Homo sapiens: one gene and its partner. The protein of the gene in region 2 purifies or fractionates together with the protein of the main gene of each other region. This does not show direct contact. Each region holds a gene or a part of one and is shown on either strand. Other genes may lie near its edges. The genes, in order: SULT1A1 and STAP1.

What was found.
Region 1: the proteins of STAP1 (region 2) and SULT1A1 purify together in Homo sapiens (affinity purification with mass spectrometry; 3 studies listed by BioGRID and IntAct, with this or other methods). This does not show direct contact.

The regions. Positions count from the first base shown.
Region 1 is NC_000016.10:28,605,550-28,617,099, forward strand, and holds the start of SULT1A1 (sulfotransferase 1A1), read right to left. Parts: upstream 4,496-11,550; 5' UTR 4,382-4,495; exon of another isoform or gene 3,311-4,381; 5' UTR 3,307-3,310; coding exon 3,159-3,306; intron 3,055-3,158; coding exon 2,929-3,054; intron 2,840-2,928; coding exon 2,742-2,839; intron 1,529-2,741; coding exon 1,402-1,528; intron 1,307-1,401; coding exon 1,212-1,306; intron 726-1,211; coding exon of another isoform or gene 723-725; exon of another isoform or gene 706-722; coding exon of another isoform or gene 688-705; coding exon 507-687; intron 385-506; coding exon 272-384; 3' UTR 1-271. UniProt on the Homo sapiens protein: Sulfotransferase that utilizes 3'-phospho-5'-adenylyl sulfate (PAPS) as sulfonate donor to catalyze the sulfate conjugation of a wide variety of acceptor molecules bearing a hydroxyl or an amine group.
Region 2 is NC_000004.12:67,552,551-67,563,213, reverse strand, and holds the start of STAP1 (signal-transducing adaptor protein 1), read right to left. Parts: upstream 4,488-10,663; 5' UTR 4,405-4,487; coding exon 4,285-4,404; intron 1-4,284. UniProt on the Homo sapiens protein: In BCR signaling, appears to function as a docking protein acting downstream of TEC and participates in a positive feedback loop by increasing the activity of TEC.

The DNA of each region.
Region 1 (11,550 bases), on a different chromosome or scaffold from region 2:
GCATGAGCCACTCTGCCTGGCCCACAATCATATTTTATTCTCTTTTTAAAAATTGGTTTTATTTTATTTTATTTTTTTAACAGAATCTCACTATGTTGCCCAGGTTGGTCTCGAACTCCTGGGCTCAAATGATCCTCCCACCTCAGCCTCCAAATTGCTGGGATTACAGACATGACCTACCGTCCCGGGCCCTCAATTCATATTTTATTCTTGAGCCGCTTGGTCAGGTTTGATTCGCACACTCCCTCTGCAGTGACTCCAGGAGCCCCTCTCACAGCTCAGAGCGGAAGCTGAGGCTGCAGCCTGCCATCTTCTCCGCATAGTCCGCATCGAAGCGCTCATTCTGCGCCACGGTGAAGGTGGTCTTCCAGTCCCCAGCCATGCCTGGGGGAGGAAGGCAGGGAGCAAAGCTGGAGTCTCATCCCAGGGGAGGCCCCAAGTGCCTATGGGGAGGCTGCAGCTGCTGCTCCCACCCGCCCCAAACCCCCGTGCTGGCCAGCACCCACCTTTCCTCATGAAGGGGGAGATGCTGTGGTCCATGAACTCCTGGGGGACGGTGGTGTAGTTGGTCATAGGGTTCTTCTTCATCTCCTTGAACGACGTGTGCTGAACCACGAAGTCCACGGTCTCCTCTGGCAGGGAGCGCCCCACAAACTCCAGGATCTTTTGAATCTCCCTTTTCGGGTTCTGAGCAGCAGAGGGCCCCTCAGTGGAGGCTCGGATTACTGATTCAGGAAAAGTAAAAGGGGTCCCCTTCTCTAACCTCAGAGGCGATCTGGCCACTTCTCCTAGAAACCCTGCAGAGCCAACTCCTCAACCCCCAGGGCCCCAGTCCCGGGGGTAAAAAGAATTGCTGTCTGCCCTGTGATCCCATCATGAGCTGGGCTTGGCTCCTATGGGTGAGGACCGTGATGGTCTTCTTCTGTGACTGTGGCCCTGGGTAGCACACCCTTTGGCAGGGAGTAGCAATAGGACTAAGTTTCTGATCCGTGGCCCCCCATGCAGCTGACTCAGGTGCGAGAGATGAGAGCTGTGTGGGGCCCGCTGCCAGGTGGGGCCTTAGTGGGGAGGCCTGGGCCAAGAAGGCAGGATGGGGAATCTGGTCCTGCTGTGGGGGCTGCCCAGGGAGGGGGCTGGGTGGCCTTGGCGGGTCCCTGTGAGGTGCCTGCCCCCAGGAGTCACATGGAGGGAAGCATCGCACGTGGTCTCACCTCCTTCATGTCTTCATAGAAGAGGTAGAGAACAGGGTGGGTGCGGCTCAGCTCCCACCACTCCTGCACGTGCTGGTACCAGGATCCGTAGGACACTGGAGAAGCAGGCAAGGGGTGCCAACACAGGGTTGCTGTGCGTTGTAGCCACCACCCCTTAGCTCCACACTTTCCTTCCTCCCATCAAACCCACCTTCTCCGACCATGAACTTCTCCAGGAAGCTGTCCCAGGTCCCAGGCTCAGGGTGCACCTTGGCCATGTGGTAGAAGTGGTAGTAGGAAACTGCCACATCCTTTGCGTTGCGGGCAACATAGACCACCTGCAGGGGCAGAAGACTCAACCCCAGCACCATCACCACACAGCCTGTCCCAGGCCAGCTCATCTCTTGGATTGGCAAAGGAGGAACCTGAGGCTTAGAGGCTGACTTGTTTGAGATCTCACGGCACCGGTAGGGCCAAGTCAGGAGCTGAACCCTGCTCAGAAGCCAAAGTCCTGCCTGGTCCCTGAGACCATCATATTCTATAGTAATATAATCTGCATCAATGCGTCACACCCCAATCTGGAGCAAGGCATGCTCCACCAGCCGTGATCCCACCGCCACCAAATTTTGTGGGCCTGTGAGGACCCACCCTCTAGCTTTCTTAGGTCTACACTGAAGAGTCTTACGTTCTTGGTCATCAGAGCAAGAGGCAGACAGTCCCCGCCGCAGAAGATGAGACAAGGCTGGAGGAAGTGAGGCGACTTTCCCAGAAGAACAGGACCAAAGCTGGGCTGAGCCAGGGCCTCCTTCCCTGGATTCACATGCCCCACACCTGGACCTTTGCTTTTTCTTTTTATTGTGGGATTTATTTTATTTTATTTTATTTTATTTATTTATTTTTGAGACAGAGAGTCTCAAAAAAAAAAAAAAAAAAAAAAGGACCGTGGTCTTTCTTTTTTTCTGTCGCCCAAGTTGGAGTGCACTGGAGTGATAATAACTCACTGCAACCTTGACCTTCCAGGCTCAAGCAATCCTCCAACCTCAGACTTTCCAGTAGCTGGAACTACAGCGCTATGCCACCATGCCCTGCTGATATTTTGCATTTTTATAGAGATGGAGACTCCCCATGTTTCCCGGGCTGGTCTGTAACTCCTGAGCTCAAGTGATCCACCCAATTTGGCCTCCCAAAGTGCTGGCATTACAGCAGTGAGCCACCACAGGTGCCACAGTTTTATTTTTATTTATATATTTATTTATTTATTTATTTTTGTGAGTTTTGCTCTTGTTGCTCAGGCTGGAATGCAATGGTGGGATCTCTGGCTCACCACAACCTCCTTCTCCCGGGTTCAAGTGATTCTCCTGTCTCAGGCTTCGGAGTAGCTGGGATTACAGGCACCCGCCACCACACCCGGCTAATTTTGTATTTTTAGTAGAGACAAGGTTCTTCTATGTTGCTCAGGGTGCTCTCAAACTCCCAACCTCAGGTGATCTGCCTGCCTCAGCCTCCCAAAGTGCTGGGATTATGGATGTGAAACACTGTGCCCTGCCTCACCTTGACCTTCTGATCCAACAGAGTCTGGGGGAGCAGAGCCAGGGGCAGGTGTGTCTTCAGGAGTCGTGGGGCCGGTGTGTCTTTCAGAGTCTCCATCCCTGAGCAGTGGGTCAGGGAAGGTCTGGTGAGCTGAAGCCCCAGCCCTGTCTTCCTCCACTCCCCTTGCACCCAGGACACACTCACACACCTGAGGGAATCCCTGGGGCTTTGAACTCAAGGAAGGGCACCCGCATGAAGATGGGAGCTCGGTGACACTTCTCCAGGTCACCACCCTGGTAGATCATGTCCAGAATCTGGCTTACCCAGGTAGTGCCTGGAGAGGGAGGGAGATGGGAGGTGAGCAGGCTGAGGGCACGACCTCGCTGGCCAAGGTGGGGACTGCCACCTGGGAGAGGGTGGGTGGCCCTCCTCACTTACCGGACTTGGGGTAGGTGCTGATGAGCAGGTCATCAGGCCGGGCCTGGAAGCTCTGCAGGGGCCCCAGTGCCTCTGCAAAGTACTTGATGAGCGGGACCCCCTTCACGTACTCCAGTGGCGGGCGGGAGGTGTCCTGGATCAGCTCCATGTTCCTGCGTCAGGGGCCAGAGCCAGGCCCGTTCCCTTACCACCATCACAACAGCAAGAAAGTGGAATTCTTGCTTTCAGGGAAGTCACTGAGGCCTAGGGAGGCTGAGTGACTTGCCCGCACTCACAAAGCCACTCAGTGGCGGGGCTGGGGCTGAAAACCAGGTCGGGCTCTAATGCGGTGGTTCCCCAGCCTGGCCTCACCTTTCATTCACCTGCGGAGCTGTTCAAAATCCCAGGGCCTGGGCCATGGTGCAGACCAGTGAAAGCACCCTCGTCGGGCAAGGCCCAGATGTCAGGGTGTGTGAAGGTCTCCAGGAGAGTCCAGCTGCACTGAGGAAGCTCTAGGACCTTCCTGTGCTGTCTCCCTGCCAGCCAGCGCCCTTTGTCTCACCACTTCCTGCTGGGACCCCCAGCCTCCACCCAGTGGAGATGCTCCCCTCCTTGAGCCCCTCAGCCCCTCACATGTGGAAACCGCCCAGGCCAGCCAGGCCTGTGATCCACTTGCCTGGCCACAGTCCATCTGGGCTCCAGGACAAACACGGCCCATTGAGGAACTGAGCTGCTACTAGGGGCCAGAGCTGCTGTGGGAATGAACAAAACTCTGATGACTCAGCAAAAGCACAGGCCTAGGCAGGGTGGCTCCCACCTATAATCCCAGACCCTAGGGAGGCTGAGGCCAGGAGTTGGAGACCAACCTGGTGCAGCATTGCAAGACCCCATCTCTAAAAATCTTTAAAAAAATTCTTAAACATTAACCAGGCAGGATGATGAGGGCCTGTAGTCCTAGCTACTCCAGAGGCTGAGGCAAGAGAATCACTTGAGCCCAGGAATTCAAGGCTGCAGTGGCCAGGATCCCACAGCACTCCAGCCTGGGTGACAGCAAGACCTGGCCTCCCCGGGGAAAAAAACAAACAAACAAGGGAAGGGAGGGGGATTCACGCAGGCCAGGGTTGTCTGAAATGGGATATCCATGGGGAAAGGGCAGGGATGCCAGAGGCCTCAGCTTCTGGAATGTTAGAGCCACAAGCTGAGCAGGGTGAGGGCGCCCTGGGCCGTTCCACTGTGTCACTCACCTGAGCTCTTGGGAACCTGGCCTCGTGCCCTCCTCGCCCGCAGTGGCTGATTGTGGGTGTTGTGTGGGGAATGCAGGGTTGTTCTCTGAGCTGAGGGTTTCCTAGGTCCACTGTGGGAGGGATCTGGAGCCGGGGCTGGACTTAGATTTGCTTCCGGAAGGAAGGGGTGGGGTTGGGGGTGGGGGAGCTTCTCCATTACCCTCCTTAGTGTGCCAGCTGGAGACAAGCTTAAAGTGATCTCCAAAGCCACGACTGAGTTTGCTGTGTAGAAAACAGAAGAATGAAAGGGGAAAGGCCCAATGGTGGGTTTGTTTTTGTAGGTTTTTTTTTTCTGTTTTTTTTTTTTTTTTTTTTTTTTTTCCGAGCTGTCACTGGGCTCCTGACCTGCCCCTGAACTCCACCCTGCCAGGCAGCCAACAGACAAGCTCTCTCTAATTGACCCAGGCAAGAGAGGGGAGGGATTGGAGGAGAAAGCTGGGATAGGCAGGCCCTGGAAAGGTCACCTACCTGCTGGCTCCAGGCCAGTCTTGAAGGTGCCAGGGGTTCTGGCCCAGTGCAGCCCACAGGCCCCCAGCAGCCCATGCACTCCAGGCTCTGACCACAAGGCCAGTCTAGAGGGATGTGTGTGGGCAGAGTGAAGGGGCAGGGGTGGAGCAGAGCATGGATGCATAGAACAAGAAAGAACAAGGACACTGCAGTCCCATTGCCCTGGGAGTCAGCCCCAGCTTCATGGCTCCTGGGGACCTCAGAGAACATTGATAGAAGATCCTAGAAGAACCACAACCCGTGGCAGGTGGTTTTATTTCCCTGGGTTTGAAGGAGGCTCCACAGACAAGAGACCAGAGGAGGCCGAGGTTTGGAAGCCACAGGGCCCCGTGGAAGGGGGGCATCCCCCCATCCTCCTCGTTCTTTATCCTCACTTTAAAGTCCAAGGTCAAGCTGTGCACGAGACAGGTAAACAACCATCTGAGTAAAGGTGAATCTCCCAAGACTTCCAAGAAATGCGTGAGTTCAGAGGCAAGCGGACAGGTGGGAGTGTGGGGGAAGCTGAGGCATGGGAATTCCAGGCAGAGGAGAGGCTTCTCATATGCTAGGGCCATGGACCCCTCCTCCCTCCTCTGTGCCCATGAGGAATCCCCGTGACTGGCAGGTCCTCAGGCTACTAGCTCCACCCCTGCCCTCAGCAACCCTCAGGAGGTTCCCTTGACTAAGACTTTGTATTGCACTCTAGTAACAACCTGTCGGACCCACACGGGGTGACACAGAAAAGAGGCGAGAATGTGAGATTAATAGAGTGGTAGCAAGTGAATACAAAATCCCAGGCAGCAGTTTCACATGAGGAGAAGAAGGAAACTTGAAATAGCTGCATGCGCTAAGGGCCAATAAGTCCCTGAAAAATAGGATGAGGACCAAGCTGGCTACGACCAACCAGACACAACATGGCGCTGTATTTGATGTAGGTTTCACCTAGGATCTCATTGTATGATCAGTAACATATGAAACCGTACACCCACCAGTGCCAAGACGGCTCCAGGAACACCTGTATTTGGGTGTAAATTGTGGCACCACGGTCTTGAGAAATCTTTACCTTTTCCTGGACTCTTCATGAATATACCCCTCTTTAGTTGAAGAAGCCCATAAAGGTCAGCCCCACACCTTGTAGGGCATGAGACACTCTCTTGAGGACCCCCACGTTCCTCTTCTTCAGTGAGTCCCTTTACTCTGCAGGAAATCTGCCTACATTCATGACTTTTGCACTTGTCCTTAAATTGTTTCTGGCTAAGGTGCCAAGAGCCTGGAGAAGGCCTGGCACGGTGGCTCACTCCTGTAATCCCAGCACTTTGGGAGGCCGAGGCAGGCAGACCACCTGAAGTCGGGAGTTTGAGACCAGCCTGACCAACATGGAGAAACCTTGTCTCTACTAAAAATAGAAAATTAGTCAAGCCTGGTGGCACACGCCTGTAATCCCAGCTACTTGGGAGGCTGAGGCAGGAGAATCGCTTGAACCCGGGAGGCGGAGGTTGCGGTGAGCCAAGATCACGCCATTGCACTCCAGCCTGGGCAACAAGAGTGAAACTCGGTCTCAAAAAAACAAAACAAAACAAAAAAAAGCGTGGAAACGGGCTGAGGTCGATGTCCCACCGGTCTTTGATGACCTCCCCTAGGCCACCAGTATCTGGAGGGGATTAGGGACACTGAGCTCCAGCAGGGCTATCCAGTGTGCCTGCAGAAACAAGGTTGGTCACAGGCAGCCCAGGACAGGGAGTGGGGTAGGGAGGCTGGGGCCAAAGCCCACTCACGTCTTCTAATTCCGAGTCTTCCACTATTTCCCCCGTGCTCATCCATCACAGCCAGATCAGGTCACCCAAAGCAGTGACGCCTCACAGCTACCAAGGCATGGGGCCAGAGAGAGAGACAGAGTCAGGCATCACAAGCCCCCTCCAGGCTCAGCCCTGAATACCAAGATCAGGACACGGCTGCCCCGGCCTGGATTGCACAACTGGGCACCCTCTTCCCAAAGCTGGACCAGGCTGGGGCCGGGGGACTGCACTCAGCTAGGGCATTGGCCCTCTAGGGGCAGAAGCTGCCCTGGTTCTTCCGGAAGGAACTCCTCTCACAGGCAGATCACGTGGGCTCTTAGCCAACAGCCAGGGTTGGGGCAACACAAGGGCCCCGCTTCATCCTGTCCCAGGCAGCAGGCAGGTAAGAGACAAGGAGGGAGAGGCAGCTGGCAGCAACCCCTCTATGCAGCAGGCACTGTTCCGGGCATTACACAGCTCCATCCCGTGAGGCAGAGGTGACTGTTATTTGCATCTTACAGATGAGGAAATGGAGGTGGGGGTTTAAAATCCTTGCCCCTGGGACTAAGCTGGTGCAGGTCCTGGGAGCATCAGCAGTGATTGATTGAGTCACAGCCTCACCACTGCAGCCAGACCTGAACTTCCTCACAGCTCAGCAACACCCAGCAGGTCACTGAATGTCCCCAGGGCAAGTCCTCTACTCACTCACTATTAGCGGGTGCTCAGTAGAAGGCACCCGTTTTCCATTATTTTATTAACTATTTCTTGGCTATCGTCTCTGTGCAGGACTTTGTTCTACAGCAGTGACAAGAGCTGCCCTCGGGCAATGTAGTGCAAAGGTTGGGGTGGGAGAGACTAACGAGAGTCATAAAGCACCTAGCCGGTGAGATAGTAAGTATTCAGGTAAAGAAGCAGACGGGGAAGTACACAAGAGGTGCAATTTTATTTTATATTTTTAGAGACAGTTTCTTGCTCTTTTGCCCAGGCTATAGTGCAGTGGAGCGATCAGAGCTCACTGCAGCCTCCAACTCCTGGGACCAAGCGATCCTCCCACCTCAGCCTCCCCCCGTAGCTGGGACTACAGGCATATGCCACCATGCCCGGCTTCTCAGAGCTGCAATTTTAAATCGGGAGATAGAGAAGACCTCCCTGTGGAGGTGGCAGGTTATCAAGATAGGTGTAGAGAAGAACCTTCCAGTCAAAGGGAAAAGGCAGGTCCTGCTGTGCTCAGGAATGGCCAGAAATACTATCATCCCCATCTTAGAGACGGGGACAGGGCCGCAAAAGTGTCAGGGCGTTTCCTGGCTCCTCAACAAACAGCTGGATCCGAAGTGGTCTGGGGGATGAGCCGCCCTGCCTGGGGCGGACCTCCCCTGGAGCTCAAGGGCTCGCAGGGCGCACAGGCCTCTTGGGCCCCGGGTCCGGCTCAGGCTCGGGCTTGGTGCCAGCAAAGGGACCTGCGCGGTGCCCTGGGGCCGGGGAGGCCCGAAGGCCATCGCCCGTGCGGCGCGGCGCATAGAGGTCCCGGCGGAGGTCGGGGTGCAGCGGGAGTAGGAGGCGCGCCTATGGAGGGGGTTCCAGGCCCACTCCAACAGCGGCAGGATACGGAGGAGTTAGGGCGGCTCCAGGCAGGGGGGCGGACCCCAAGCCCTTGCCCGCCTGCCGCCGCCTGGTCTCCTTCCTTACCCGAAGGGTTGCCACGGCGGGCGGGAAGCCGTGCACGACGAGCACTTTCTCCCTGGGGAGGAGAACGGGGGTGTCCCTGTGAGCCCTGCCGCGCCCAACCGCGGGTCCCCTCCAATTCCACCCGAGAGCGGGGTCCTCACTGCCGGCTTCAGCCTAGCCCCAGGCCCTGCCCCTAAATGAAGTCACGCCCCCTGCACCTGCCCACCTCAGGCCGCGCCTCCAGCCCAGGTACCCACCTGTCCCCCCTCTTCTCTCTCCTGCGCTCCATCCGACCCCAGCATGCCCACCAAGACCCCTACGCTGGCCCGCATCCTGGATCATCACCTCCGCCCCAGCCAGCTCCTCCCCGGAGTTCCACCGCCAAGATTCCCAGGGCACTGTCTCCCCGTCATGCTCCTCCTCTGTGACAGTCCCGTCCCCACCCTGGACTCCCCACCCATGTCACAGGCATGCCCTTCCCTCTCATCAGGCTTGTGCCCAGCGGGGTCCGCCTCCTCCAGGAAGCCTTCCTCCTGGCACAGAGACCCTTCCGGTCTCACCAGGAGTGCAATGGCCCGATTTGGCTCACTGCAACCTCTGCCGCTGCCCCCTGCCCCATCTTTCAAGCAATTCTCCCGCCTCAGCCTTTTGAGTAGCTGTAATTACAGGCACGTGCCACCATGCCCGACTAATTTTTGTATTTCTATTACAGACGGGGTTTCACCATGTTGGTCAGGCTGGTCTCGAACTCCTGACCTCAAGTGATCCAACCGCTTTGGCCTCCCAATGTGTTGGGTTTACAGGCTTGAGCCACCGCGCCAGGCCTGGGCCCTGCCTTTTGTGTGGCCCCCATTGTGCTGCTGGACCTGACAAGCAGGGCTGACAGTGAACCCCATATAAACGTGGCCCTGATGACGGGGGTTCAGGCCGTAGAGCAGGTAGATGCTGAAGAAGCGCCCCGGCCTAGCCGCGACTCCCGTGGAACTCTTTGAATTTTAGGAAATTCTCCTTAAACACACTTCTGGTTCAGCACCGACATCAAGAAGAGAGCCTCTCCACCACCTGCAAACTCACTTTGTCCCTCCCTGGTTCTTCCCGCTGGGCGCCCACTATGCTGCGGTCTCGCCCATCTGTAGCTGAGCCCAGCAGCCCCTGTAGGACACCTGGCCGAACGGGTCACAGTCCTGCTGGGCTCACTCGGGAGATGGAGGCTCCCAGGGGCTCCTCCAACAGCCCCAGGGCTGCTCTCTGGTCACTGCACCTGCCTGGGCTGCCACTCTGCTTCTCATCTGCACAGCAGGAGAAAAACTCCACAGAGCGTGCTGTGGGCGGGGCCGGCTGTGCAGGGAGCACCGGGTCCTTGCCCTGCCCCTGTCCTCCACACTCCCCTACAGGGACTGTGCCCCTGGCTGCATCCTGCATTTTCCTCCTTTTGTCCACAGGTATGAGGTAGATGACATTGATGAAGAAGGCAAAGCGTGAGTGTCCAGGCCAGGGCAGGGCATGGAGCCTGGGGGCAGCCTACCAGCTGGGAAGGAGCATCCCCACCCGGCCACAGGTTGACACAAGCCCCTCTACCACCAGGAGACACACCGTGAGCTTGCGCCGGATCATCCCGCTGACCCGGTGGAAGGCCAACCCCGAGACAGACCCCGAGGCCTTGTTAGTCAAGGAGAAAACCATGTTCTCAGGATGCTGTGACCTTGGTGACAGCACGGCCAACACAGGAAGCCTGGGCAACACAGGCAGTTGGGCCCGGGTGACCACTACCACCAATATGCAGAGACTGGTAGTGGCCCCGAACGTCGGGCTGCGCTGTTATTTATTGGATACAAGGCTGAAGGGTCAGGGTAAAGAATGTGAGTCACCTCCAATGATAGGTAAGGTCACGTGGGTCACGTGTCCACTGGACAGGGGGCCCTTCCCTGCCTGGCAGCCGAGGCAGAGAGGGAGAGGAGACAAAGAGAAAGACAGCTTATGCCATTATTTCTGCATATCAGGGACTATTAGTATTTTCACTAATTTACCACTGCTATCTAGAAGGCAGAGTCAGGTGTACAGGATGAAACATGAAGGTGGACTAGGAGTGTGACCACTGAAGCACAGCATCACAGGGAGACGCTGGACCACGATCCGCCTGGTAACGGGCATCTTCCCAGATGCTGGTGTCACCGCTAGACCAAGGAGCCCTCTGGTGGCCCTGTCCAGGCATAACAGAAGGCTCGCACTCCTGTCTTCCGGTCACACCTCACTATGTCCCTTCAGCTCCTATCTGTGTATGGCCTGGTTTTTCCTAGGCTATGATTATTGAGCGAGGGTTATTATAATATTGGAAGAAAAAGTAATTGCTACAAACTAATGATTAATGATATTCATATATAATCATATCTAAGATCTATATCTGGTATAACTATTCTTGTTTTATATTTTATTATACTGGAACAGATCGTGTCCTCTGTCTCTTGCCTCGGTGCCTGGGTGGCTTGCCGCCCACAATTCTCCTGACTCAGCCTCTTGAGTAGCTGGGATTACAGGCGTGCGCCACCATGCCTGGCTAATTTTTTGTATTTTTAGTAGAGACTGGGTTTCACCATTTTGGTCTGGCTGGTCTCGAACTCCTGACCTCAAGTGATCTGCTCACCTCGGCCTCTCAAAGTGGTGAGATTACAGGTGTGAGCCACCATGCCAGGCCAGTTTTATTTTTTTAAATACAGACAGGGTCTTGCTATGTTGCCCAAGCTGGTCTCGAACTCCTAACCTCAAGGGATCCTCTCGCCTCACCCTCCCAAAGTGTTAGGATTACAGGCATGAGCCACCACACCCGACGTACTTCATTATTTCTTATGTGAACTTGGCTACAATAACCCCCCACTCTGGTTTCCTCTGCTGCAATTACCTAACCGTGAAGTGCAAGATCCTCAGCTCCGGGTGTTCAACAGTCTCCAGGATCCAAACTCATTCCAAGTTGCTCAACAAATACTCTGTGAACACCAAACTGCCTGTGGTTTCTCCCCTCTGGGCATACCGTGGTGCTTTACACATTGTCAACTCTACTCAGCTCTTCTGCCCCTGGAATGACCTGTCCCCCAGTATGTGCCTAACTCCAGATCTTTTTTTTTATTTTTTATTTTTTATTTTGAGACAGGGTCTCGCTGTGTTACCCAGGCTGGAGTGCAGTGGTACAATCATAGCTTACTGCAGTCT
Region 2 (10,663 bases):
CAGATTTAAAAATGTGAAGGAATCGCCCAAATTCTAGAATTGGACTGATACTTTTATCTCTTGACTTCCCAGTGCTCTTTTCTCATTAATACAACTAGCAAAAATGAATTAACTAGCAAAAATGAATTACAATGCAAGCTCCAGTTAAGTTTCTCTTCCTCTGTCCCCAATAAAAAGCTCTCATTCTTTGTTTTTGTGCGCAAGTAAAGTACATTTACCTAAGGAAGAATGTTGTATAGTGGTCTCCAAAATGGGATGCATAAATTCCAAAGGTGTGCAAGATGATCCATTGGGAGAGAAAATTTTAGAATATTTAATTATATTTTATTTCATATTTCTTAATTCATTTTTTATATATCAAATAATTTACATGGATTAATAGTACGGGAATATATATATTTATAATTTCCAAATGAATTAATATTCTTTTTTTGTTGTTTTTGAGATGGAGTCTCCCTCTGTTGCCCAGGTTGGAGTGCAATGGCGCAATCTCCGCTCCCTGCAAGCTCCGCCTCCTGGGTTCACGCCATTCTCCTGCTTCAGCCTCCTGAGTAGTTGGGACTACAGGCGCCCACCACCTCGCCCGGCTAATTTTTTTTTTTTTTTTTTTTTAGTAGAGACAGGGTTTCACCTTGTTAGCCAGGATGGTCTCAATCTTCTGACCTCGTGATCCGCCCGCCTCGGCCTCCCAAAGTGCTGGGATTACAGGCGTGAGCCACCACGCCCGGCTGAATTAATATTCTTATATTAGGGATCTGTGCTCAAAATGTTTTCCTGAAAGGAGTGTGTTATTTTAAAATTTGGAGATTACTGCCATAGAGAACTGTGTGTGAGCACAACTTAGACAGCCCTAAAAAATTTCCTTTTTTTTTGAGACGGAGTTTCGCTCTGTCACCCAGGCTGGAGTGCAGTGGCACGATCTTGACTCACTGCAACCTCCGCCTCCCAGATTCAAGCGATTCTCCTGCCTCAGCCTTCCGAATAGCTGGGACCGGGCCCGGCCCACACACACTGTTTTTTTTTTTTACTTTAGCACATCACAGATTGAAGAAATTATGAGACGTTGCCCAAACTATCTCTTATTTTCTTTCTTTTTCTTTTCTTTCTTTCTCTCTTTCTTTCTTTTTTTTTTTTTTTTTTTTTTTGACAGAGTCTCGCTCTATTGCCAGGCTGGAGTGCAGTGGCGCGATCTCGGATCACTGCAACCTCTGACTCCCAGGTTCAAGTGATTCTCCTGCCTCAGCCTCCCGAGTAGCTGGGACCACAGGTGCGTGCCACCATGCCCTGCTAATTTTTGTATTTTTAGTAGAGACGGGGTTTCGCCATGTTGAACAGGTTGGTCTCCATTTCCTGACCTCGTGATCCGCCCACCTGGGCCTCCCAGAGTGCTGGGATTACATGCATGAGCCACCGCTCCCGGCCCACCCACACTCTCTCTTATTTTCAAACGGTCCCAGAAAAAATGAGAAATTTTCCCATTTGTAAGAACTGCGATGCCAATGGTATTCCACTGTGGCATTTAACAGCTTTGATAATAAACACATCTTCCTGGTTAATTCAGAATCCTAGTGCTGTGGCTTAAATAAATCTTCCCACATTATCTTTTCCATAAAGATTATGTGTTTTTCATGGGTTCTTGACCTCAGATTTAGAAACCTTCTAGAATTGCATGCAAAATGGTATACGTTGTTACATTTTCCTGGGGAAAAGCTCTTTAAATACTTAAAAGTGCCCCACAAAAAATAGCTAAGAAGCACCTCTCAGCATTTCATGCCTTTATAGACCAGGTTACTCTTCAGTTATATTTTTTCTAGTTTAAATGTTCTGAATGACTTTGGCAGAGACCCAACTTTACATTCTGCAGAGCCTCTCACCTTCCTCTAGCCAATCAGCTCCAAAGATTACTTGGCTATATACCTTTGGCTCACCTTCTGTTCAAAGATTCCCTGGCACTTTGCTGCCAATTGCTTGGAAATTCCACTTATTTTGCTTAGATTTTTCTCATAGCTTCTATTTTCAAGTACTCTAATTATCACCATGCTCACTCTCCTTGGAGTCATATTACTTGCAGACCTCAAACTAATTTTAGTACCTGAATAAGAGTATGATAAGTGATGAAAGGGTAAGAGAATGAATCTAACCTTTAGTGTGAGCCAGGTGTTTTACATATGCTATCCCTTTAATCCCTGAAACCACCACATAAGTAGGTATTATTGTCATCCTCTTGCTCTCTTCTCCCTGACATACAAGTAAAAGGTACTTAGTGGTCTAACTCAGAGGCCCATGCCTGTAATTCTAGCACATTGGGAGGCCAAGGTGGGCAGGTTGCTTGAGCCCAGGAGTTTGAGACCAACCTGAACAACGTGATGAAACCCTGTCTCTATAAACAATACAAACGTTAGCCGGGTGTGGTATGCGCTTGTAGTCCCAGCTACTCAGGAGGCTGAGGCAGGAGAATCACCGGAGCCGGGGATGTCAAGGCTGCATGACTAGTGATTGCACCATTGCACTCCAGCTTGGGCAACAGAGGAGACACTGTCACACACACACACACACACACAGACACACACCCACACACACAAAGATACTTTACTATAAATTCAAATAGAAACACAAGTTAATTTCATTGGAAATATTTATGCCTATAGGTATTCATTCTGCTTCAAAGAATGCTTTCTAAGAGAAGGTAAAGAGTAGAAATTTGGTAAGGAAGACATCATTCCTACTATATTAAGCCTCTTGAAAATAAAATCTTTGTGTTTTTTTCCATATTCTCCAGAAATGAGTGATGCTTGGTGCATAGGAGGCACACAATAAATGTTGAGTGAATAAATTGATTGAACACCTACTGAATCCTAGAATGTACCTTAGGAGGCAAGTAGCAAGTAGTATACTCTCTATCTTATAGTTGAAACAGTCTCAAGGAGATTGAGTAACTTGCACAAGATCACAAGCTATAAGTGGCAAAACCATCAGATAAAGGACACTCTAAAATTCTTATTCTTTCTGCTAACCATACCAATGACATGTCTTCTTTAAGCATTTAAAAAAAACTGCTATCATAAACAGTTATTATAAATACCTTGGAAAACATTCAATGAACAACCTGATTTAAATTACTAATTAGAATTTTTTTTTCTCAACTTCCCTTTCCTGGCAAAGTGTGACTATGTGGCTTACCTGTGGTGACAAGATTGAATTTACATTAAAAGCATATAGGATCAATCTAAAAAATTCTAATATAACTGAAAGGTAATTATTTATGCATGTTTAACATCCATAACAGAATACAAATTACCATGTCTTTACTCTCAAATAGTAAATGATCTGATTATATATGTAAGAAATGTGAATATGCTATTATAGATTTTTCATATATATAATTTTTCCACAAGTATTCATAAATCCTCAGAAAATATATTTTAGCATCATTAAACATTTCTGATGGAATTTCTGAAAACCTTAAAATTTTTCTAGTTTTAGTCAGTATACAATTTCATAAAATTTGACCTAACTTAATGATTTTTTTATTTAATAACAGGCAATTTTGGGCTTATTTCTCTAATTAATTTCAAGTCATCCATAATTACTGTTTTAAAAGTAATGATTTTAACTAACTATAAGTTTTAATTATTACATTTAAAAATACAGAATGCTTCATGGATTTTCTTAGAGCAAAGGTATTTATGTAGCTTAGTGTACTTAATACCCACAGTAGTACCCCAAAAATTAAAAGTCACTATCTTGAATAGTATTTTAGAACACATAACTATATATAATGTTAAACAGTATGAACTTTGTCATTTTAACAATTTTTACAAAAGCCATTTTTAATAATTTGATCATTATAAACTTCAAATGACTCAGAACAGGAGCAGGTTTAATTTTAATCATGATATCATTTTATCTTAATGGTACATGTCATCATTGAAGCATAGCAATAAATTGTGGAGAAAATACAAGAAACATTTTATCTCCCAAGCCAAAATCTTTTGTGATATTTAAATAAATTCTTTGGAAATTTAGCTTATTGACTTTTTTATATTAGTGCCTTAATATTACAACCTCTGTTATTATACATATTATATATGTGTATACATACAGGTTTAAGCCAGACATTGTATTTAAATTATGAAAAATTGGAATCATTTTTCTGAGCTCAAAGAAGAGAAGATGATTTAATTTCAACAGAAACAAGGAGGTCTTAACACATCACATCACCATGAAATAAATATTAAATTAAAACAGAAGTCTTAGGTTTAACATTATCATCTATAGACTCACCCGGTATCCTGACCGCTTGATTAATAAAAAACCTTCAAAGTACAAAGGTAGAGCAGTAATCTTTAACCTTTCCTGGAAGATCCTGCGAGGGGCTGGTTTTGGGGGCTTCTTAGCCATCATACCCCTCTCTTTGGTGTGTGGTTTGGTTTCTCGTCTCAAACAAAATGAAATCTTCCTTCTGTGAGAGGAAAAGGCAACTGTTCAAAGAGGAAGTCCCAAATTGCTTTTTAACCACCAACACTACCACCAACAGGACACACACACACACAGACGCACACACACACACACACACTTTTTTTTCCATTACTTTTTGTGAGGTAAGAAAGAACAGGTGTAGACTGACTTTCAGAGGGCAATCTCTGGGTAATCCACATGTGCTTAGATTTAAAGCGCAAAATAAACAGAAGATTAACATCACCAGAAGATGAAAGAAACAGGTGTAGAGATTGTGAACTTTAGGGGAGATATCAAGAACACAGTTATTCTTTCTATCTTTGTTTTTGTTTATTGGTGTCCATTTTTATTTGCAGAAGACATGACTTGAATAAACTCAGCTTCATTAAAAATTACTTCATAGAATAATTTTATTAGTACTACTTCTGTTGGTTAAATATTTTAGGGTCAAGTTTTGTGTAAATAAAAAAAATAGTTGTATCTCATGCTCATTTGATGCTTCACTAAATATAAACCACAATTATGGGAACACGGAATATGGAATTTTTTTCTTTTTTCTTTCTTTCTTTTTTTTTTTTTTTTGCCAGTAGATATTCCAAGTACATGAGTTCCCAATGAATATTTAGTGCTATGTTTTGAATGTGTCCTCCAAAACTTATGTGTTAGAAACTTAATCCCCAATGCAACAGTGTTTAGAAATGGGACTTTTAGAAGGTGATTAAGTCATGAGGCCTCTGCCCTCATGAATGAATGAATTAATTAATGCTGTGGGAGTGGGTTTCTTTCTCTTTTTTCAGAGGCAGGGTCTTGCTCTGTTGCCCAGGCTGGAATACACTGGTGCAATCACAGCTCACTGCAGCCTTGACCTCTCAGGCTCAAACAATCCTCACACATCAGCCTCCTAAGTAGCTGGGACTACAAGGCACGCGCCACCACTCCTAGCTAACTTTTTCATTTTTTGTATAGACAGTATCTCCCTATGTTGCCCAGGTTGGTCTCAAACTCTTGGGCTCAAGCGATTCTCCTGCTGTGGCCTCCCAAAGTGCTGGGATTACATGTGTGAGCCATTGCACCTGGCCTGGAAGTGGGTTTTTTATAAAATCAAGTTTGGCACTTTCTCACATGCTATCATCCTCTCTTGCTCTTCTATCTTCTGCCATGGAATGATGCTGCATGAAGGTCCTCATCAGATGCTGGCCATGTTCTTTGACTTCCAGACTCCAGAACCATGAGCGAAATACATTTCTGTTCATTATAAATTACCAGTCTGTGGCATTCTGTTACAGCAACACAAAGGAGTCTAAGATATTTGGCAAAAAAATATCTGGCAGAGAAAGCTGTAAGTTTTCAAACTTTTATTTTGTTCTTTTGTGCTTTCTGAGCTGCAGACCATTGATACTATGATTCATGGATGGACTTCCCACAGTTATCTAGTGAGATTTATAAAGCTATACTGGGGCCAAAGTGCACTCAATGGTTGCATGTAGGAAATGGTCCTTAAGAGATTGGATTTGGCGTAGCACAGTGCAGGAAATGATGGGAGAAAAGAATACTAGAAGGAATTTTGATTTGTCTTACAGGGGTCCTAAGAATTTCTACCATTGCCTATTTCACACTCAGTATTTCAGAACTACTCTAGATTTAGAACAGCCTGGGCCCAGTGAGACCAGCCTATTATTAGAAATCAAAGCAAGTCAGGAGTCTTCAGTCTGATTCTCCTTTCCTAATGGAGAGACTGCATGGTTTTCTCCACCAGTATGGGTCCCACTGATCCTGCAGCTGTAGATATGGGATGACAAATTGTCTACAAAGTGAGGTAGAACAATACGGACTGATTATCAGTAAGTTAGAGAAGAGTGTTCAGATGTATTATCAAAATGAAAACAGCTCAAGACAGAAATAGGGAGTTGAAGATCCAAAATGACTGCTTTGCTTTTGTAAGTTTAGACCTGCTTCTTGCTACCCAACCTTCAAATAATAAAATATAAGTCCAACTGAATTTTTTGAGGCAAAAACCATAACTATTTTTTAGTTTCGGTATACTAAGAAAGTGACTTGAATAACAGGAAAACCTCCTGATTGAATATATGACCTAATCCACTTTCTTGGCAGCTGTTAGTTGTTGTAATACAGGGGGGAAGTGAAAGGAGGGATTAAGAATTGAAAAATGAAAAGAAGCAAGGATAAAGAAAGAATGCTGGGAATCATCAGTGATTACGCACTGACTTTATGGTCAGAAAGTTTCATAGGTGAGAGAAAATAATACCTCTAAAAAAATGTAAAGGGGATTTTTTGTTGTTGTTAAATAAGCACTTAGTTTTTTTTTTGCCTTTAAAATATAAGCAACAATTTAAAAACAGCTAATCAGACACAGTAAGTTACTTTGGTCTGCTGATTTGTTCGTCAAATTCATTCTTAATATACCAAGAATCAAATTATATCTCCCTGAAAAAGACTACAAAATGCAAAAATCTTGCTTAAACAATATTAACAAGTTAGTCCTGTCTGCAATGACTAGTGTCATTGCACCACTGCACCATTACAATGGAAATCCTCTTACAGATACCTCAAGTCTTAGGCAGTGAAGAATAAATTTGTAGGTAAGGAAATATAGTAGAAAATATGTTTGGACATAGGGCATAAACTAATTTTGCTACTAACCAGCTCTTGAGACCTTGAACAAACCACTTGACTTCTCTGGTATCATAGCTTCCTCACCTATACAAGGAGGCGATGGACTACATGACTTATTGTTTGAAGAGCTGCAAAAGGCTTTTAAGTAGTCTCCTAGTTTCCACTCTTTTTCTTCTTTGATTCATTTAATATTCAACCTAATCAAGATATTCCCCTACTGAAAAGACTTTAAAGGATTCTCATTGCTTTTGAGATTCCTTTTTAAATATTTTTTATTGAACACTAAATACTTATTGAATACCAACAATGGGCTCAAGCATGGCACGTTGGTCCTTTATAGCAGGGCCCCTTTTAAATAATAACTCCTCAAAATACCCTTTGCTCTGGTAATTTCATTTAGTCTCAGTTGCCTGAATACCCTATGATCTTCCCTGTCTCCTCATACCTTTTCAGTCACTGTACTCTGCTTAGATGCCCCTCCTTCTCTTTGTTTATATGGTAATGTCCTACTCGTCCTTCAAGACCCAGGCTGAATCTATCCTTAATTCTGAACATCTCCTAATTTCCTGAAGCTTTCTTCACCCCCACAAAAAAAAAAGTTATTACTCTCATTTCTGCTTTCCCAAAGCACTTTGCACGATTTCTTTCTTATAGTATTTGTCCTGTTGTAGTTATTTGTATACATTGAGTATCAACAAGAAACAGTTTTTCCAAAGGAAAGATTGTGTTGAAGTAGGGGTTGGTTATAAGTAGATTGCAATATCATATATTTACTGAATAGCTTCTAGCTAAAAAATATGATTCTAGTTTGGAGAATTATTAGCTTCCATTGTGACAGGAGTTTCCTTTTTTCTGATATATGTGACCATTGGTTGACATATGATTCTTGTGTTGCCTTGTAGAACAATCATGTTACTATTAAACTATTGGAGCCCAACATTACAGCCATCAGTAGCATCTGTGTCACAGAAGATTGTTACAAATCAGGTTTTATGGCAAATATAACTTAACAACTTTGGGTGAAGTATAAGATTTAACTCATATAAACCAAAATCTCAGTGCTGTATTGACTCCTCTATGTTATAAGGTCATCTGAGTAAAAATCCACATTTTTTACAATAATTGAGGATCTCTAAAATACTTTTCTATCCATTTATTAGTACTGAATCAATCAAATCAACCAACCCTGCTCCAGTACTTCCACATTTCTGACCTTTGTTTTGCTTAATACTTACTGATGATTTATTGCCATATGCATTATAATTTGCGGTAGTATATTTCTAAGATATTTTAATTGAATACATTTATTTTTGCAACTCATACCTGAAGAATACAACTTTAATTTTAACCATTGTGTGAAATACTTATAGCTTATCAATGGCTGGTATGAATCCAATACAATCTTTATTATGAGTAAATTTTTTATTACTATTGATAGAGTTAAGCCACATTTTCTTTTTCTTTTCTTTTCTTTTCTTTTTCTGAGACTGAGTCTTGCTATGTCGCCCAGACTGGAGTGCAGTGGCATGATCTCAGCTCATTTCCACCTCTGCCTCCCAGGCTCATGCCATTCTCCCGCCTCAGCCTCCTGAGTAGCTGGGACTACAGGTGCTCACCACCACACCTGGCTAATTTTTTGTATTTTTAGTAGATATGAGATTTCACCATGTTGGTCAGGCTGGTCTTGAACTCCTTACCTTAAATGATCCGTCCGCCTTGGCCTCCCAAAGCGCTGGGATTTACAGGCATTAGCCACCACACCCAGACATGCAGCATTTTCAGTGGAGAAAATGCACATTGTAATACCACAACTCCAGAGATTATCAGACATACAATATGGAGGGAGCTTCCTACTCCTTTGCCTGAGAATTACTGATACAGTGAGCCATTTTTACTCAGAAAATGTTTCCCTTAAGTCTTTTGAAACAGAAAAAAAAGGTGGGCAATCATTGTTACAGAAGTGATATTAGTAGCTCTGTCAGAACAGTTTAATTTGCTAACCCTTATAATTTTCAGTACAAAGAGTTGCATCTGGGATGATAAAAACTTTTCCTAGTTATGTATTTTCAAACTATTTTTACAGTGGAAAATATCACTTTTGTTACTGAGAAATAGTTTTTGGATGCCAGGTAGATACAGGACACTGGTTTTCACACTAGGTAACTCACAGAATAATGGTAGCTTTAATAGAAACTAGAAATTCAGAGTGGGGAGATAGTTTGGGTGGTAGAGGGATAATGAATTCAGTTTTAACCATTTCAAACTCAATGTATACAAAGGTTAAGTCTATGTTTTCTCTTTTATTTCTCATCCTTCATGCCTTCCTTAGGGAATAAGGTGGATTGGTGCTTACCGTCATTCCAAACCCTTCTAGTGTGCTTTTGTTTATTGCAGAGGCTAAAAAGATAAAATCTACATTTTTCAGACTTCTTTGCAGCTAAGATTGAAAAGCATTCAACATGATTGGCAAGGCAGAAGGGAGGCGGGGTTCATTCTTATGCTGCCTTTGTTTTTGTTTGTTTGTTTGTTTGTTTTTTAAACTTCATTGAGAGGAGGTCTGGCTATGTTGCCCAGGCTGGTCTCAAACTCCTGGGCTTAAGCAATCGTCCTGCCTCAGCCTTCTGAGTAGCTGGAATTAACAGATGTGAGCCACTGCACCAGGCAACCTTTGGCTTTTCTAACCAATAAAAAGGCATGTATGGCCTGTAGGCATCTAATTTTTCTGTGGCAAAGTTATCAGAAGTCCCAATGTCTGATCACTAGCTTCATGGGTGTTGATAGTCAAGTCACAGACATCAGTTTGCTTGTGCATATCATCATATCATTTTAGGTAAGGTGTGGCTCTGGAGCCGGAAGCAGTAAGGAGGCTTTCTGCTCTGAGAGGATTCTTTTTTTTTTTTTTTTTTTTTTTTTTTTTTTGAGACAGAGTCTAGCTGTGTCCTCCAGGCTGGAGTGCAGTGGCACCATCTTGGCTCACTGTAACCTCCGCCTCCCGAGTTCAAGCGAGTCTCATGCCTCAGCCACCTGAGTAGCTGGGATTACAGTAGTGTGCCACCACTACTGTATAAGTATAGAATAAGCTACCATTATTCTGTGAGTTACCTAGTATGAAAACCAGTTTCCCGTATCTACCTGGCATCCAAAAACTACTCCTCAGTAACAAAAGTGACATTTTCCACTACAAAAATAGTTTGAAAATACGTAATAGGAAAAGCTCTTATCATCCCAGATGCAACTCTTTGTACTGACAGTTATAAGGGTTAGCAAATTAAACTGTTCTGACAGAGCTACTAATATCACTTCTGTAACAATGATGGCCTTGCTAATTTTTGTATTTTTAGTAGAGATGGGGTTTCACCATATTGGCCAGGCTGGTCTCCAACTCCCGGCCTCAAGAAATTTGCCTATCCTAGCCTCCCACAGTGCTGGAATTAAACATGAGCCACCATACCCAGACTCATTGGAGAATTCTTATTGGTAGTGACTGACAGAGCAGGAGCACCATCATCTCAAATACTGCCACTTTAAGTTCCAGCTCCCTTTTTAGCCTCATGCATTTCAAGGAAATCAC